Regions from separate parts of the Homo sapiens genome. Here region 2 is linked to region 1. Evidence: fine-mapped expression QTL. Tissue or cell type: whole blood. Region 1 holds a variant in brackets; the other region holds the start of a gene. All regions are shown on one strand. Distances are between the middles of the regions.

The links. PIP is the estimated chance that this variant, and not a neighbour inherited with it, causes the effect.
Region 2: it holds the start of TP53I11, and the variant in region 1 is fine-mapped to the expression of TP53I11 in whole blood (TOPMed, PIP 0.93).

Annotation. Positions count from the first base shown.
Region 1 is chr11:45,064,418-45,070,313 of GRCh38, reverse strand. No RefSeq gene overlaps it. Among named protein-coding and RNA genes, the nearest start is that of PRDM11, 79 kb to the left of the region's middle. The variant T/C (reference allele first, on the strand shown) is at 3,397.
Region 2 is chr11:44,947,899-44,953,794 of GRCh38, reverse strand. It overlaps TP53I11 (tumor protein p53 inducible protein 11), which reads left to right and starts at 2,912. Exons shown (of 7, transcript NM_006034.5): 1 at 2,912-3,118. RefSeq lists silencers at 2,723-2,982, 3,013-3,142.

The DNA.
Region 1 (5,896 bases):
ATTACAGGCGTGAGCCACTGCGCCTGGGCCCTGGGCTATTCTTTATGTAGACATTGAAGTTCTAACCTGCATGGCTCTGGGCTGGGTCCTGTAGATGTGCAAAGGTGCCTGGGAAGGTGTTGGACCTATCGGGATGGGTAGCACTGCCCACATAGGGCTCCTGTAAGGAACAGTAAGACAAAGTGTGCAAAATGCTTCCGGGACCACCACATATGGTTGTTCAAGCTCGGCACTGCACAACTCCAGGTTGCTGAGCAGTACACAATACCTGCAGCTGTGCTTCATCATTACCACCTGCTCTGTTTGCCTTTGGGAAAGTTACTCTGAGCTTCTGTCTCCTTTTCTGTAAAATGAGAGAGGTGACTTCTGCCTTGCAGAGCTGTCAGCAAGACTCAAAGAAATGCTACATGTCAGGGTACCTGGCAAGCCCAACTCTTGTTAAGAGGGAAAAAAATGGTGGCTTTAAAAACCACACTGTCCAGAAGGTCCATGGCAGGGTGGGGGCCATCCAGGAGCTGGATTTTCCAGGCACAGCACTGGACCTCCAACACCCACCAGCCTCGTAGATCAAAGCTGCCAGCCCCAGGCTCTACTGTTCCACTTGACTCTTCTCACCTCCGCCCTCACCCGGGACCACCATGGATTTCTTTTGGAAATGGCCAGTTTCAGGCAAGCAGCAGGACACTGCTATCTTGCCTGCAGCAAATTGCCTCCTGCACAGCAAGACAAGCTTCCTCCAAGGAAAGATGTAATCAGCGCTGAGTTTAGTGCCTACATTGTGAGAAAAAAGCTGGATTTGCTCCTTTGGGGCTGAGAGCTGGGTAAAGCAGAGCATCCAGGGATGGGTACAGGCTGTGGATTGAGGCTTCTCTGTGGCCTTGGAATTGCTGCCCAAAGGACCAAGCTGAAAACAGGGGATGCTGGATGGTCTCCCACTGAGAAGAGAGGGCCACAGACTTACTAAGAGCAGGTGAAACAGCCCCCACCCACATCACACACACAAATACAGACACCATCAAGCTCATGTGAACCAAAGCCTTGGGAAGCAGGAGGAATTCTTCTGAGGAACGTCATCAGCCCAGGGGTCGGGGGTGTGATATGGCTGTTCCATCCCCTTCCACGGGTGGTCCTTCCACTGAGCTAAATATGGTGGCTCCACTAGGGCATTGCAGAGGATGAGGAAGAGCTGACTTTCCTATCCTCCACGCATTCTCTTCCAGGGGCAGGTCCCCAGCCAAGCCTGAGCTGGGCTATTCTTTAAGTAGACACTGAAGTTCTAACCTGCGTGGCTCTGGGCTGGGCCCTATAGCTGTGCAAGGTGCCTGGGAAGGTGTCGGACCTGCCTGGATTACATTAAAGGTCTTGAGAGGAGAGTAGACAGAGCAGATCTGGGGCAGTGATGAGAGAAAAAGAAAATGGGTCATGACTGCATTTACTTGGTTCAGACTGTTTGATAGAACAAACAAGATAGAGGACTCTTCTTTTGGTCTGTCTTCTTTCTGGTTTTTTTTGTTTTGTTTGTTTGTTTTTTTTTTTTTTTAGACGGAGTCTCGCTCTGTTGCCCAGGCTGGAGTGCAGCGGTGTGATCTCAGCTCGCTGCAGCCTCTGCCTCCCAGGTTCAAGCGATTCTCCTGCCTCAGCCTCCCAAGCAGCTGAAACTACAGGCACACACCACCGTGCTCAGCTAATTTTTGTATTTTTAGTAGAGACAGGGTTTCACCATATTGGCCAGGCTGGTCTCAAACTTCTGACCTTGTGTTCCACCCGCCTCGGCCTCCCAAAGTGCTGGGACTACAGGAGTGAGCCACTGAGCCTAGCTGATCTGTCTTCTTTCAAAGAGGCCGTGTTTGAAAGTATTTGAGTGTGTGTGTGTGTGTGTGTGTGTGTGAGAAAGAGAGAGAGAGAGAAAGAGAGAGAGAGATACAAACTGAGAAAGAGAGAGAGAGAGAGAGAGAAAGAGAGAGAGAGAGAGATACAAACCGAGACAGGGAGCTTGAATCCTAATTCTTTGAGGTTAACCAAGGAAGGTCAGGGAACAGGCCATGGATGAAGCTGGTTGAGCAAACAAGATTCACTGTGATGGGCTGAGGCAAAATCTGAATGATGGAAGGTGAAGAAAGGAAGAGGCAGGCCAGCTGTGTGTTTCAGAGCCTAGATTAGATTTGGGGTTATGCTCAGCCACCTGTAGTCCATGTGGCCTCTGCAAGGCACTCAGCCTCATGGGTTATCTGGGAAGCCTTTGTAAATTACAATTTACTTTCTAAAACAGTCACTGTGAGAATTCAGTAATATAATATGAGTACTTGCCTGAGTGCCCCAACAAGAAAATGCAAAAGAAACAAAAATAAAGGAGTGATACTTTGCCTTATAAAAATATATTTAAGAAAAGTCACTCCCACAGTTACAGTCCTTTACTATACATATGTTCCTTCACCTGTGATGGGGTCGTGTCCTGATAAATCCATCGTAAGTTGAAAATATTGTTAAGTTGAAAATGCACTTAATACAACTAACCTATTGAGCATCATGGCTTAGCCTAGCCTGCCTTAAACATGCTCAGAACACATGCATCGACCTACAGTTGGGTAAAATCATCTAACACAAAGCCTATTTTATAATAAAGTATTGAACATCTCATGTCATTTATCACTGTTCTTTTGAACTTGTTATAGCTTTTGCACCATTGTAGAGTTAAAAAATCCTAAGTCAAATCATCCAAGGGGACTCCAGGACTGCCTGTATATACCTCCTGTGCATTTGATGTCAGGCTGGTCCAACTTTGACTTACAAGCTCCTTTCCAGGAGCTTGTAGAAATGTGAACAGGGACTGAGCACTTGCTGGGTGCCAAGTTCTGTTCTCAGTGTTTTGCTTCTATTGACTCAGTGACCATGGCTCAGCATGAGGCCTACGTGGGTGGGGAGGGTCACTCTTCAACCCCACTATAGCTTCATCTGGACTTCTGAAGGGAGACCAGGAGACTTTGGATCCTGGGAAATGCTTGTTGGTGAGCGTGCTGTGTGCCAGGTGGCCTGACTACATAAGTGGGGATGAGTAAGTTCATGCATGTGGGCCCCGATACAGAAGGCCACCATCATGAGCAGTGAGCACAGATGTCCAAGGTGCTGTGGTATGCTTGCCAGAGCACCACACTACTACCTTGCTGTGTGACATTGGGCTCTTTGCTTATTATGACAAAAGGAACCCCCACTGATATCCTGCCTCCTGGTGTCCACACCTTTGTGATCTCTCCTCCCCTTGAGAATGCATGGGAACTTCAGCTTGCTACTAAGGAACAGAATATGGCAAAGGTATATAAGACTCTATCACATACTAGAGAGAGAGAAAGAGAAGAGAAAATGACTCTTGTTGGCTTGGAAGAAGTGAGTAAGCTGCCA[T/C]GTGGTGAGGGGGCTTATGGAAAGGGCCACTTGGCAAAGAATGTTTCTGGCTTCTGGGACCTGAAAGTGGCCTGCAGCTGGCAGCCAGCAAGGATATGGTGATCACAGTCCTAGAGCTACAAATAGATGAATTCTGTTACCAAACTGAATGAGCTTGAAGCAGATCTCTCCCCAGTTGAGCCTCTGATGAGACTGCAGCCGTGGCTAACTAACACCTGGAGTACAGTCTGGTGAGCCCCTAAAGCAGACCCCACTAAGCCACATGCAGGCTTTTGACTTACAGAAACTGTGAGAGAATAAATGTGTGTGTAGTGTTAAGTCTCAAAATTCATGGTATTTTATTATGCAGCAATAGAAAACCTCTCTGTGTAAGTTTCACTTTTGGCAAGACAGAATTAAAAAACAAAAAACAGAAAACTGCTTTCTTTCTTTCCCCCAGACTCCTACCCACCAGTCTCACAGGGATGCAGTGAGGTGAACTGGATAACTATCTATAAACTATTCTAATATCCTGGAGAAAATTGCTAATGAAGTATAGTGATTATATCATCAAAGTAATTTTTAAATTCATCCAAAAAGCCAATCTAATGAGTTGGATGAATAGAAGTTTTTGGGAAAGTTTGCAAATATAAAATCTAAAGCACTTGATAAATGCTGGAAATTAGGAAGACTTCCATTAGAGATGCTCAGTTCTCATGATGGGTAATTATCGAGGCAGAACAGGCAAAGCAGCTCCTTCCTGGGTCCTAACAATAGACACAGAGAAATGAGGTTAATAATCCCTAAGGAGGAAGATAACTGAAGTTGGCATCTCAAAGAGTAATTGTCATCTCCAAGGACAGAGAAGTCTCATTATTAATGTTTAATCCTTCAACCAAAAGTTCAGATGGTGTGCCTTTTGAAGGTGGCACAGCATGAGACAGCCATTCTTATTGCTAGTGGGGGAAGTGGTGACTCCCACATCATTAGGTCTGGCTTTCTTCCCCTCACTTTCTTCAACTCAAAGCTTTGGGTATAAGCAAAATTTGGATGTAAATGGTAGAGTGCTGTGGTTAAGATCTTCAACTCTGGAATCAGGTCTGACAGACCCTAGTTCAAATCTTATCTGTATCTGTATCACTGTGTTGGTTAGCTCTTGCTGCATAACAAACAACGCCAAACTTAATTATGTAAAGCATTTATTTAGCTCACAAGTTTGCAGATTGGCTGGGTAGTTTGGCAGTTCTGGGCTCAGCTTGGCTGATCTTTGCTGGGCTGATTCACAAATCTGCAATCAGTGGGTCGGCTGGGGTATGGCTGGTCTGAGGTGGCTTCAGCGGGGAGAATTGGGCTGACTTGGGTCTCTTCCTCATGGTTTTTCATCCTTCAGCAAGCTGGTTTAGTCTTATTCACATGACAGCTGGCAGAGTTCAAAAGAAAGAGAAGCTTAGAATGGGTGCAACTCACTCCTACTGCATTCTGTTGATCCAAGAAAATTATAAAGCCAGCCCAGATTCAAGGAGTGGGGGAATCAACTCTACCTCTTGGTGGGAGAAACTTGGAAATCACATGCAAAGGGGGTGGTTACAGGAAGGATATTAATTAGGGTTATCAATGCTTCATCCCAAGGCAGCAGTACTCCAACAGCAGCAAGAAATAGCAAGATCCAATACACAAGCACTTTTCAAGCACCCTCTTGTTTACTAATGCCCATTGGCTAAAGCAAGTTGCATGGCCATCCCAGAATCAAAGGGTGCAGAAATAGACTCTACTTCTTGATGGGAGGGAAAGACTGCGTGGCCATTTTTGCAGTCCTCCATACTACCCATCCAAGTGTTATCTGGGAAAATCTTAACTATTGTCAAACAAATCAATGAATCCTGGATAAGACACAAATACAACAAAATCTTGATAACTGTTTAATCTGGAAGGACAGCAATCAGCAGGTTGGTGACCACACAGAGTCCAGCACTACCACAGTCATCTCTGTACCTCTTGTTTTCAACCCAGTCTTCTCTTCTCTAGTTCTGGGACTGGCCACCTTTATCAACTTTAGGGCTGCACAACTAAAGCCCCTGCCCTTGGATTCACACTTTTAGAGCATCTCTGTGAAATAGAAATAAAACATGGGTCACTTATGTAGTTTTAGATTTTCTAGCGGCCCTTTAAAAAAATTAAAAAGAGACAGGTGAAATTAATGCTAAAAATATTTTAAATGTAATATATTCAAATATTATCTCAACAAGTAATCAATGTAAAAATTATTACTGAGCCATATTTTTCACATACTAAGTCTTCAAAATCCAGTATGTATCTTATACTTACAGCCCATTTCTATTGGACAGCCTTGTCTGAAGTACTCAATGGCCTCCTGTGGCAACTGGCTACCATATTGGACAGCACAGCTTTAATTGGTCCTTCTCTGGTCCCCTCCAGCTGCATCTCTCTTGTGGAGTAAGGAATTCATGGAGCAAAAAGGATGTCACCATTTGTAGCTCCCACTACCTTTTTCTAGGCCAGA
Region 2 (5,896 bases), 120 kb after region 1:
CAGAAGAGTTGAGGGCAGAATGGCTGCCTAAGGGATGTTTCTGAACTGGACACATCACTTTAGAAAAGTATATAGGGGCCGGGCGCGGTGGCTCACGCCTGTAATCCCCGCACTTTGGGAGGCCGAGGCGGGCGGATCATGAGGTCAGGAGATCGAGACTATCCTGACTAACATGGTGAAACCCCGACTCTACTAAAAATACAAAAAATTAGCCGGGTGTGGTCGTGGGTGCCTGTAGTCCCAGCTACTCGGGAGGCTGAGGCAGGAGAATGGCATGGACCCAGGAGGCGGAGCTTGCAGTGAGCCGAGATCACGCCACTGCACTCCAGCCTGGGCGACAGAACGAGACTCCATCTCAAAATAAATAAATAAGTAAATAAATAAATGAAAAGTATATAGGGAGGAAGACAATAAGAGCCTCTAATGGGTGCTTTCTGGAGAGCGGATGCAGGGGGTTATGGATAGAGCCAGCTGCTTCTCCCCTGGTCCCCCTCCAAGCACTTTGCCTGTTATCTTGAGCGGTTACTGTTGCTGCTGTTGACTATCTGTGCAGTCATCTACAAGGGGGCTGTGAACTCTCCAAGGACAGGGACACTGTCCTGTTCACCCCTGGGGCCCCAGCACATAGCACCTTGCCTGGCATAAGGGTGAGGCACTGTCAGGATGGCCTCGTTCACAAAGGATGGTGGGGCAGCCTTGGCCCAGCCTGAGCTCCCAGCCTCCCCAGCTTCCCCGTTGATAAGGAGACTGAGAGAATACAGACACCCAGAGGGCAAAGGTTATCCACTCCAAATACCACTTAAGGTGGGAATTCTTCCTCTGCTGTCCTCATCAACCCTTCCCTGGATTCTGCTTGCATGCTGCTAGTGACAGGGCACTCATTCATGACAACTAAGGCAGCCTCTTCCATGTTGGAAAACTTGGAGTGATTGTGACAAAGGCCTCCCACTGATGTATGATCAGGCTGGCTGGGATTACAAGCACAGACCCTGCTGCTAGTCTTTAGGGTTACACCAAGCAGAGCACTGGCAGGTGTCCCCAAGTCTGGGAGGACATTGCACATGAATGACGCTGGGGGCCCTCCCTTCAGCAATCCAGAGCCCTGAGTGCCAGAAAGGCAGAAGAGGGAGTGACAAATGAATTCATCAACCCAGCTTGGCCCAGCTCTGTAAAGGCAGTGAGGTGAGACTGAGTTGTTGCAGAAATTACTATAGAGCCTTGAGTCAGATGGCTCCACCCAACACACCTTAAAAATAATCCTCATCTAGAGTCACATACTTTGATTGATTGATTGATTCATTCATTATTGGCTATCACTGTCTAGGTGTTTGGCTGGGGGCAGTGTCAGTGGCACTGGGGCATCAGAGTTTATCTACCTTAGTAATCAGGACAGTTTATATTCACTGAGCACTTACTATGAACCAAGGACTGTTCTGTTTACTTCCTTGCCAAGGGCACAGACTCTCCTGCCCAATCCCAGCTCTGGTGAGGACAGTGGGAGCCTGCATGGCACAGAGTCCATGCACAGTAAACATGAGCAGCTCCTATTAACTCTAAATCTCTACAGCAACCATAGCCGGTTCTTACTATTGGTTGCTCTAGGTGACTTACTTTGTCCAAGGCCACACAGGCACTAAAAGGCAGAGTCAGGATTTGAACCTAGGTGATCTGGTTCCAGAGCCTGCTCTATTAACCGTTAAGGAACTGGTGCAGACAGAACCGAGACCTGGAGTCAGAATGCCCACCTAGCTAGATGCCTGAGGCAGCCACTCACCTCTTTCTGTCTTATTTACTTGTGAAATGGAGCATGTCATCAGCCTTGCCTTCCTTTTCCCGCAGCCCCCCACCCCGGTTCCTGGCCCACTGTGACCATCAGATCAGATGAAAGAGATCCAGGCATTTCTCTAAGGAGAGCACAGGGTGGTGGGGGTTGGGGTGGGAGAGAGCACATTATTTTCCCACCATAAGGGGTTGAAGGAGCCCAGAATTTGGGGGTGGGGCCTTGTCTGTAGGAGCCTGGTTCTCTCAGGTTGACACGCCACCAGAGAGCCTCCATGACCCCCAACCCTCATCCTCACCCCAGCCCCCCATAGGATGTGTAGAGACAAAAGGTTTGACAACTGTAGCGCCAACAAGCGTCCTAGAGCCCCAGATAAGATCCTAGCCTCCTGACAGCGCAACTGACAGCAGCATCTCTGAGGCTGGATTTTAGGGTGGAGTATGAAGAAGGTGGCCGTAGTGACAGTGGGGTCATGTTATTTGGCCAAGTCACACCAAGCAGGGAGAGAGAAGGGTGGGCCTAGGCTGGAAGCCTGAAGGCTGAGTGAACTCAAACTTTAACGACCATGGCCTGTAAAATGGGACTAAGCACAGCGCCCTTATGGGTTGCTGTGAAAATCAAATGAGTTAATACTTGTAACTCCTTTAGCATATGGTGTCTGGCATCAGAGAGTGCGCAGCAAACGGTGACTATTGTCGTGACTGTGTTATTACACACTTGGGTATCACCGCCAGCCAAAGCAGTCCCTTCCATTTCAGGCACCGGCCTGGGCCCGGGAGACACCGCAAGGCTATTTAAGATGGTGTGGTTTGCCCATCTACGTTGATCGTCCCAAGAAAGGGGCACCGTCTGCAGAACTTGCCAGGAAAGTCATCCTGGGCGGCGCGGGCCACGCCAGGGTCTCCCCGCGCGGCTTCCTCCCCCGGCGCCTTCTCTCGGGCGCGCGTGCGCCCCCTGCAGGCGGCCCCCGGGAGAGCCTCGCGGGGGAGCCGGGAGCCTGGTTTCCCCGCCAACCCCCATCCCGCCCGCCCCGGCGGCCACCCTGGGGGCGAGGCAGCCCGGCGCGTGGGAGGGGACGGCGCGCCATTGGCTTGTGCGCGGAACCGAGAGGAGGGACCAGCGCGGGCCGCCAGACTCGGTAAGCCCCGGCCGCGCAGGGCGCCGCGCGCAGTCCAGCCGGCCCGGCCCTGCCCTGCCCTGCCCTGTCCTGCCCTGCCCTGCCCTGCCCTGCCCTGCACTGCCCGGCCCGGCACGGGCGGCGCGATGTGAGGCGTCCGAGCCCGGAGCCTCCGCCTGGCATCAGCTCCACGTAGCCCAGCGCCGGCACGCGCGAGGCCCGTAAGTTCTGCTCCCCGCCGCCGCTTCCGAGCCGCGGACTTTCCCCTCCCGCCGCCCGCCGCCTGCGCAGCGCAACCCAGCGGGGCTCCTGCGGCCGACGGGACCGCAGAGGGGCGGCCGGGACCCCGCGCGCGCTAACCGGGCGCCCCGGGACATCTCGGCACCCGCTGAGCCCGCTGGGACCCCAGGGGGTCGCCTCCCCAGCTCCCCAAGGCGCCGTCCCGCAGCCCCTTCCGTCTCCCCTGCGCGCTCTCCCCTCGCCGCCCCTCCCTCTGACTCGGTTTCCCCTCTCCCCCGGCTCCGCGGTCGCCCTCCTCCTGGACTGCTTATTTCGTCCTCGGCCACTGCCTCTCGGGCTCGAGCTTTCTGCTTCAGAGCAGGAGAGAAACGGAGCGAAAGCAGTTTCTGTCTCCCCGGGGTCTGACTCGGTCCCCCGCGCTCGGTTCTCTGTCCCCTCCCCCTCCCGCCATTGTTCCCGGCAGGAGGAGTGCGCGGCGCAAACTTGCGAGTTCCCCCAGTCTTTGCCCCCGCAGGGCCGCGGACGGAGGTGGTGGCGGAGTTCCCGCTGCCCACAAGTCTGGCCCGACCTTCTGGGGTGGGGGCCTGGGGGCAGGGGCCCTGGGCCGGAGAACCCGGGGCCGCCTAACGGCTCGGAGCTCACCGCCGGGGGACACCGGCGCTGAGGCCTGGGTCTCAGAAAGTGGGTGAGTGTCTGGAGCGGGGACATCAGGGACAGATTGCAGGGGGAGGGGCGAGGCTGAGAGAGTCCCCCGTCCCCAGGCTGGAAAGGGGCGGGCAGAAACCCAGGCCGCGCCTTAGCCCAGTTAGGGGGTGGGTAGGGGACGCACAGGTGGAGACGCCCCCCACTCTCCCCAAAGTCGCGCGATCTGCAGGAAGGGTACAGTGTGGGGCCACTGGCCGGGCGCTGGGTGGGTTAGGGCCCCTGCCGTGGGCAGAACACTCGCACCTACCCGGGGGAGGCTGTGTGGAGGAAGGGCCAGAACGCCGCGCCCACCCCGGCGCGCCCCGCTGGGCGGGGCGGGGCGGGGCGCTCGCCTTGGGTCCCCTCGCTCTACCTTCCTTCGCCCTGACCCAGTCTCGGGCTTCCGCCTCTTCCTGGAGCCCGGGGGGAGTGGGTTTCTCCGCCGGAGAGATGGAGGCTGGGGCAAGAGCAGCGCGGAGGCCAAGAACCCCCAGGCTCCTCCAAAGCCCAGAGCGGCTGGCCAAGGCCCCCTCACCGCCCCACTACCCTGCACTTCCTGATTGGTTTCTTTCAAACAAACTTCTTGACGGGGCGGGCCTGCGGGGAGAAGTCACCGGGGCTGCCCACCCCAACTATGTGGTCCCTTGGACCTCCACCCCTGACGGCCTGTGGAGAGGGGACCAGGATCTGCGGCCCGCAGATCCCAGGGACGCGGGGGTCGTTTTGTTGCAGAGCCAGGAGGGGGCACTGTCCGCTCCTTAGCCTCAGCCCCAGACTTCGAGAAAGGAGAGAAAAGATTTTTCTTGTTGGGTTGTTAGGAAATAAGACTATTCTCCAGGCTTCTGTTGTCCCATCTGTAAAATGGGTCGTCTTGTTCCTGAGGCCCCCTCTGTCCCCACCATCCCAGGAGGCCCCTGCCATGGCCGCTTCTTTCCCAGTCACATGTCGTCAACTTCCTCCGTGCTTCCAAATTTGGAGTGGAGGGCTAAGGCCGAAAGCCCCTTCACCCATGTCCAGCTGTCATGACCTGCCAGTTCTAGGACTGCGACCTATTTTCTGCACAGCTCTGCCTCCAGGCCCCTTGTGGCTTCTCCAGCTCACACCCAGCCTCCCAATTTCTTTTGATAGCCCCACCTCTGTGGGAAGAAGGGCCTGCCCCTCTTGGGGTATGGGGGAGGAGGGGGCTGGATTTAACAGGAATGCCCCATAGTCACACAGTTTGGGGCTGTTCTTTACTTTTGCTTATTGAACAAAATGTTTGTGAGCATTACACCAAAAATGGCTTATGGAGCAAAGTGCCAGGGACAGTTTCAGGCACTGGGGAGACAGCTGTGGACAAAATAAAAATTTTTGTCCTCATGGAGCTGATGCTTAAAAGCAGGGGGCAGGGGGAGGCAATTCCCTAATAAAAACAATAAGCAAATTATATAGTGTACTGAGAGGTGAAGGGGAAAAGTTGTGTTGGGGGTATTGAGGCCAGGGACCGGGTTGTCATTTTAAATAGGGTGTCAGGGAGGTCTCCCTGAGGAGGTAACTTTTGAGCTACAGCCTTGAGGGAGATGAGGGAGTGAGCTGTGTAGACAGCTAGAGCACAGCCCATGCAAAGGCCCTGAGGCTGGAATGTGCCTACCCTGCAGCTAGCAGGGAGTGAGGGGCTGAGGAAGAGTGAGTGACTGAGAAGGGATGAATTCCTCCCCTTTCACAGGTGAGGGAAGTGAGGCTCAGAGACAGTATGTCAGTCACCCCAGGACACACAGGCCAGGAGAGGCAGCTGCAGGGCGGGGTGCCTGATGTTCTGACTCCTGGTCCACGATACCTCCCCGGCACCCTGTGTCTCACTGTTTATCCTGCTACACTGGCTGGACCCCTCCCAGGGCCAGCGCAGCATCGTCCTCCTGCCCCAAAGTGACCCTTGCTCTCTCTCATCCCACTTCCTTCCTATGACCAGTCCCTTCTGAGCACCCAACTCTGACCTGGCACATGATCCCTAGAAGGGGACCTGCTCTGAGGCAGATTTGGTCAAGGGGGCAACTGAGGCAAGGAAGTAGAGTCTTCTAGTCTAAAAATAATGAGCA